2 linked regions of the Homo sapiens genome follow. The protein of the gene in region 1 interacts with the protein of each later gene in a biochemical or structural test. Each region holds a gene or a part of one and is shown on either strand. Other genes may lie near its edges.

What was found. Proteins that work in one complex are often made in the same cells at the same time.
Region 2: the proteins of VCAN (region 1) and CD44 form a complex in vitro, tested with the Homo sapiens proteins (one study listed by BioGRID).

What each region holds. Positions count from the first base shown.
Region 1 is NC_000005.10:83,474,744-83,478,243, reverse strand, and holds part of VCAN (versican core protein isoform 1 precursor), read right to left. Parts: intron 1-3,500. UniProt on the Homo sapiens protein: May play a role in intercellular signaling and in connecting cells with the extracellular matrix. May take part in the regulation of cell motility, growth and differentiation. Binds hyaluronic acid.
Region 2 is NC_000011.10:35,145,671-35,149,170, forward strand, and holds part of CD44 (CD44 antigen isoform 1 precursor), read left to right. Parts: intron 1-3,500. UniProt on the Homo sapiens protein: Cell-surface receptor that plays a role in cell-cell interactions, cell adhesion and migration, helping them to sense and respond to changes in the tissue microenvironment.

The sequences.
Region 1 (3,500 bases):
CCAGGCACAGTGGCTCATGCCTGTAATCCCAGCACTTTGGGAGGCTGAGGTGGGTGAATCACTTGAGGTCAGGAGTTCAAGATCAACTGCCATGGCCAACATGGTGAAACCCCACTCTACTAAAAACACGAAAATTAGCCAAGCATGGTGGTGGGTGCCCATAATCCCAGCTACTAGGGAGGCTGACACAGGAGAATTGCTTGAACCTGGAAGGCGGAGGTTGCAGTGAGCTGAGATCGTGCCACTGCACTCCAACCTGAGTAACAGACTCCATCTCAAAAAAAAAAAAAAAGAAAAAAATTATTTTTTTTTGTTACTCCTCTGATTGGTGAAAAAATGGTGTAGCATATCATTGGTGTTTTAATTACTATTTATTTAATTACAGATGAGGCTGAGCGATTTTTTCTATAATTTTAAAACTCTATGTCTCTTTCTGCCACTACCTGTACATAATTTTTGCTCATATTTTGATAGATGTGGACTTTTCAAAGTTATTCATAAAAGTCCATGGAATATCAAGAGTTATTAGCTTTTTGTCTCTCAAATGTCGTAGATGTTTTCCAAATATATTATTTGCTTTTGTGTAATTTTTACTTAGTCAGACCTATCAGTATTTCCTAGAATGGCACTGGGTTTTATGTTTTGCTTAGAACAGGTTTCTCTATTCCTAACTTATTTTTTTTAATCCCATGATTTTCTTTTATCATTTTGTAAAAAGTTATTCCCTACATTTCATATTTGATTCATCTTATATTTCTTTTAGGATGAGAAATCAGGTAGAGACTGATTCTTATTTTGCATGGACCCATCAATTGTCCTGAAACCATTTATTGAATAATTCTTCCTTTCCACTGAATGTCCAACTTCATTGGAGTCAATTTCTGTAACCTGTCTTCTGATTAATGAAACTAAACAATTTTTAAAACAATATGCCCCTCTCTGATTTATTTTATAGATTCAGTAGAAACTACATGGCTTGGGTAATGCAGTTATTATTAAAATTATAGAATTAGATCAATATGAATCCCAAGACATAATATATTATCATCCCTTTTTTGTATAGTTTTTCAAAGTACTTACTCTTTTGATCTTTATAACTGCATATTCATTTAATAGATTATGACACTAAAGGTCCAAAAGTAATATCTTTGCTTGGTTTTCTCAGCTAGTGAGTCCAACTCAAACTTTCTGATTCCAAGTCTAGTGCTCATTCCACTATACCTCAAGTAATATCAAATCAATAATTTAATAATAAAAAGATTATAATTTATCAAATATGTTTATTGTAAAATATGTAATCTCATTTTATAGACATAAACACCTCTTAAAATCCTTAGAAGAATGAGGTAGGATGTATACAGATGTGGAAAGTATATACATTTGTATCCTTTTATAGTTGGTAAATCTACCCAGAGGTGTGTTTCAGGAAACAGAACTGACACATTAAACAAAGATTCTCTGTACTGACCTCTGAAATACAACCACCTCTAACACATTCAATGGTAAGAACTTAGCAGTGTTTAAAAACCCTGTATACATACACACACACACGCACCCCCCACACACACACAGACTTTATATATATGTAATTTACCAAGTCTAGGCTACAAGAGGAAACTGGCAAAAATTCACTAATTGAAATGGAGCTTGGCCAAGACATCCATATCTAATCCCCCTTTTCTGATTCCAAATCAGGGAGAGTACATGCTTTGTGTTTTCTGGTAAAATACAGACCTATGTAACAATCAGCATATTTTCTCAGACCAGAGCAAGTAACTCCCAACAATGAGTGTTTGTCAGTCCTAACTGGTTTCTCTACGTGGGTGGTGAAAAAATACCTTACTACAGTCATTAATTCTTTCTTTCAAAAGAACCATGTGTCTTGAGAAGTTCTGCTCCATCACAGGGCAATATCCCATTTTAAATACAGTGTTTACCGATGTTTGTCCATGAATGACGTCAACAAAAATGTTTAAATCTCACCAGGAAAGGAGGGCTTAGTTGCCAGACTTTGGGAGACAGAGTTAGTTGATCTTTGCGCTCTCAAAGGCTCTGTTACTCAATTAAGTGACCAATCATTAACTCCAAAGTATTTAAGCCTAATAATACAACAAAAGAGAGAACAATGGGTAGTATCTTTAACATTAATCATGGTCACCTTTGGTTTAGCTGTTTAGGTCCTTTCCTAGCAGAATTTACAAGTGTATAGATACAGGTATTCTGGAATATCAAAGGCATCTCCCTCCAGTTTGCAAACACAGGGAAAAAGAAGAAACTTACATCTGTAAACCTATGTAAATCTAGGGGGATTCCTTTCAAACCTCGTTTTTTTGAAAGCAGGAAATACAATTTAAAACCAACTCTGTTTTTATCTACCAAAAGAATCAAAACTTTGAATTCTGACATAAATCCTAAATGATTGTCTTGAATCTCATCCCGCTTCCTACCTAATCTTCTCACAAGAAGATTAAGGACTGTGGACTTGGTGCTGGAGGAAGTAATTGCTCAATCACATTGGAATCCATTGGAACCCTTTACAATATTACTGCGGGCAGACAATACAATTCTAACATATTTCTTTCTTTACTCAGAGCTCAGAACAAGAAGTCAGACTCTTGGAGACCTTCTCCCTGATGTACTGCTCTTAACATTTCCAAGTTACAAACTGGGAACCGCTTCTATCTCAGAACACTAATTGTTGCTTCCATTGGTACCTTCCTATTTTTATATTACACTCACAACATCCTATTTTAGGACTTTATGTGAATATTTTCAGGATGGGTTTGGCGAAATTGTCAAGAAGTGCTTAAAACAATTAGGTCACAGCTTTCAGCAGACAAAAAGAAAAAGACGTGGCTGTTAGCTACAGAATCTGAGGTGATGGAAAAGATCTTTAAAATCCAGTTCTTCCAATATGCAGCAAAATGGGAGGACTTAAAATGCAGCTCTAAGAAGCACCGTCTCGTCTGCACCAAGCTTCTCCAGGTTTCCAGCTCAGTCACTCCCTAAATAGGTGCTGAGCTTCCAGTCCCCGCCAGGTCCCCGCTAAGGTTCCTCATTGAGGCACAGGAACCTCAGTTACACTCGCAGCCCTTCCATGTTTGCCCCCATGAAATTCTATTAGTCTTGTCGAATGGCAGTATTTGCCATTCCAGGCGAACTCTTTATGACAGTCTGGAACGAAATTAATCTGTTAATTGACTAAGAATGGGCTTTAGAGTGACCTGAATGTATTTAAAAAGTCAACAAATGGAATACGGTATAAAGTCTCATTTTTCTGACAAAAAGTTTGCTTGGAGTAAATTTTAACCTCTCCCCTGCCTCAAAACAAAAGCACGATGCCCCTCCTACCACTCCCAAGAAGCAAGCAAAAATAAAATAAAATAAAATAAAACTTAAATAGCCTTTTAATAAGAGTGTTCAGCGCTGTCTGGATGGAACTCGGGTCAGCTCCAGAAGCAGCCGGCCCCGAATCCTGGGGGCGAGGCCACTCGGCTCTC
Region 2 (3,500 bases), on another chromosome or scaffold:
GAGATACTGATACGAGGTTGAGATCCTTGGGTGAGAGGCCCACACTCCTCCAACCCCCATGTCTGCTTCTGGAAGGTGGTGGCAGAGGAGAGAAGTAGAAGTACTATATGGGAGATGCGGGAGATTCTTGCCTTCTCTGTCGGTCTCTTTGGGCAATTATCAAGCTGTCATCTGACCAGATACTACCATAGCTTCTTCGGGGGCAAATCCGTAGGGAATCCTGACATCCGACGGGGAGCCACTTTGGCAATGGCAAACGGTGTCTCCTCTCCACAGAGCTTGTGATGTCAGAAATTACCCATAACTGGGGCAGGTTTTGTCTTCCCAAAGATTGTCTGCCCAGCTAGACCTGAGAGACAGGGAGACAAACACAGAATGAGGGGGTGGGTCTTGTGGGGGTGGGGAACGATGGAAACTCACAGAGCCAGATCTCCCCGAGTTTGAGTTGCACTGGCTGCCTGGGTGTGTCCTCCTGAGGTAAGTGTCCCTGCGAAGTGCAAGTGTGGGCAGACAGATCTCAGGTGGGTGGGGAGGGACTGAGTCACCAAGGAGGTGATTTGCAAAACTCAGGTCCCAGAAACTTTCAGGTCTTCAGCTTTTAAAAGTAAAGGTTAATTGCAAAACTCCGGGGTTGAGGGAAGAGATTATTCACATAGACCAGTCATTTTGAGCATCTGCTGTTGTGGCATTGCAAGTCTCCTTCGCAGTGCCTGAAAGTTCATTTGTTTTTGAGAGCTCTTACGCTTTTTCTGTTTGCATCTTTGCACAAGTTCTATGTTTCTGAGAACCCTCACCACTATTAGTAATAATAGCAAACACTTACAGAGTGTTGACCATGTACCAGCGCCATTCTAATTGTTTCCTATATACTGCCTTGTTTAATCCAAACACTGACTTCATGAAGGTGGTGCTGTTATTATCTGTCTTTTACATATGAGGAAACTGAGGCACAGAGAATTTAAGTAGCTTGCCCAAGGCCATGCAGCTGATAAGTGATGGCGCTGGGATTCAAACTCACATCTGGCTACAGAGTTCATGCTCTTTGTCACTATGTTAGAGTGCTTCTCTTGGTATATTAAGATATCGAGGCACCCTAGAAATCCAGACGATTGTACCTGGAAGTACTGTAGTTGTTTTCAAAAACTTCATTTGGGAATCTAGTTGTGGGTGAGGTCATAACATCCACTGAGCTTTTAAACATGATGTCAGAGGAAGGGGTTAGAATTGCAAAAATGAAGGAGGAGGAAGTTGTAATGGAAACTTCTGCCAATGCATATTCTGAGTTGACTCATTCATTCTGATCTCTGAATAGAAGCTCTACTCTCTTCCATGTGATGGAAAGTTGAGGATAGGGTAGGGCTGAGAGGGATGTGAATTGAGTTGTTTGTTCATTAGGATAGGATAGGGCTGAAAGGGATGTGAATTGAGTTGTTTGTTCATTATCACTTCATTATTTGTCACCTGGATGAAAGGTAAAGGTGGCTGATTAGTGTTTCTCCATCAGCTAGAACTTTGACTGGGAAATGAGCCAATCAAATAGCAGCAAAATATTTGCCCTCACCTTACAGGCCCTTGGTTCCAGGGTCTTCTCTCCACCGGCTAGAATGGATGAGGGAGGGAGAGAAACTCTGAGAAAAGAGGCTGTCAGGAGTAGGGCTGTACATATCCAGGGCACAAGGAATTTGGCAAAAGCTGGAAGTATACTATAGCCCTTCTCTCCAGCCCTAGCCTAAACCAGATGACCAGGCTTCTATTTGGCCCAGCATGTGACCATCCCATCAGGGAGCAAGAGAGTTTCCTCTGGGTACCCCTCACTGAGAAAAAAGCCACCCAGGAAGGGAGGAGGCAAGGCCCCCTGGGAACATCTGGCTCAGTCCACAGGAAGGGATGCAGGCCTTTTCCTGGGAATGAGGACTCATCCCATATTCCAGCCCCCTTCCCCCAACTTTTTTTTTTTTCAATTTTAGTGCATCTCTTTACACTTAACAGGTCTGCAGTGACTTCTAGGAGGATCCACACACCAATCGTGGAACTAGGCAGCATCTTTTTCCACTTCCTTTCCAAGATAGTAGCACGATAACAGTAAAGCCCCTTTGCAAGTGTTCACTATTATGCACATTAAGATGCCAGGGAGAGGGCTGGGAAAGGTGGCTCACACCTGTAATCCCAGCACTTTGGGAGGCCGAGGCAGGCGGATGACCTGAGGTCGGGAGTTCGAGACCAGCCTGACCAACATGGAGAAACCCCGTCTCTACTAAAAATACAAAAAAATTAGCCGGGCATGGTGGTGCATGCCTGTAATCTCAGCTACTTGGGAGGCTGAGGCAGGAGAATCACTTGAACCCGGGAGGCAGAGGTTGCAGTGAGCCAAGATCACGCCATTGCACTCCAGCCTGGGCAACAAGAGCGAAACTCGGTCTCAAAAAAAAAAAAGGTGCCAGGGAGAAATGAACAATTCCATGCAGCCAACACCTGGTCTCCTGCGTTTGGCTTAGAAGGGCATTTCTGCCCAAGCCCCCAGCTCTAGTCTTTGCACACTTTAAATGAGTAGCTACTACATGCCAATCACAGATGTTGCCTCTGCTGAGTATCCAGTCAAAAAACCAGAATCTAACAGAGCTAACTAAGCACCATCTTGCAGGAAACCAGCTGACGTCAGCTCCGCAGCCACCAGTGAGTTACTGGGCCCACATCTGCCTGCAAGAGGGGGAGGGGAATTCAGGTAACCCACAAGAGGGGATAAAAGTTCGGGGAAGAAATCTCCTGTCAAGGAGTTTGTTTTTGCAGTGGATCCTCTGCAGTGAGACTAGTTGTCTTTACAATATCATTAGAGGTCAGGTACATTCCTGTAGACTCCCTTAAGTGACTTGCTTTCTCCTATTGTTCCCCCTGAAAATTCATAAAAACCTCACAAACACATCTCCATTTAAAAAGAGAAAGTTTAAAGGATGCCATGTAATGGTTATCTCTTTTCTTTTGCCAGTGAGCATAAAAGCTCCTTAGGGAAAAGCCCAAACCCTCTATACATTTTCATATTCATGATAGCCCTGAGCGGTCAGCACAGTTCCCCAATTATAGTGGGTGCTCAATAAACACTTGGATGGCTTACTGAATTAATAATGTTTCTAGACTTGGCTAGCAAAGCCATCTCCGTTACTTATCTTTTGTGATTTTTATAGGTTCTGTCTAATTCTTTTTCTTCATTTTTTTTCTTTCTGGTCTATACAAATCTTCTTTCATTTTTCTCTATTGCTACTTGTAGCGATCCTCAACCCGCCTCCTCCCTTGAAATTTCTGTTCTCTGCACTCTCTTCAGTCTAAAGAGATCTTTCTTGAGGTTTGAAATGTTACACAAGGCAGGGGAAGTTTAGAGCTAATTGTATTTTGTCCAGTAGAACGGGGATCTGGATTTCCTATAGGTCTGGCTGCCTCTTTGTCTACACCTTTACTTCCAAATCTGGCCTCATGTATAAAAAGACCCCAAACCTTAAAATCATGTT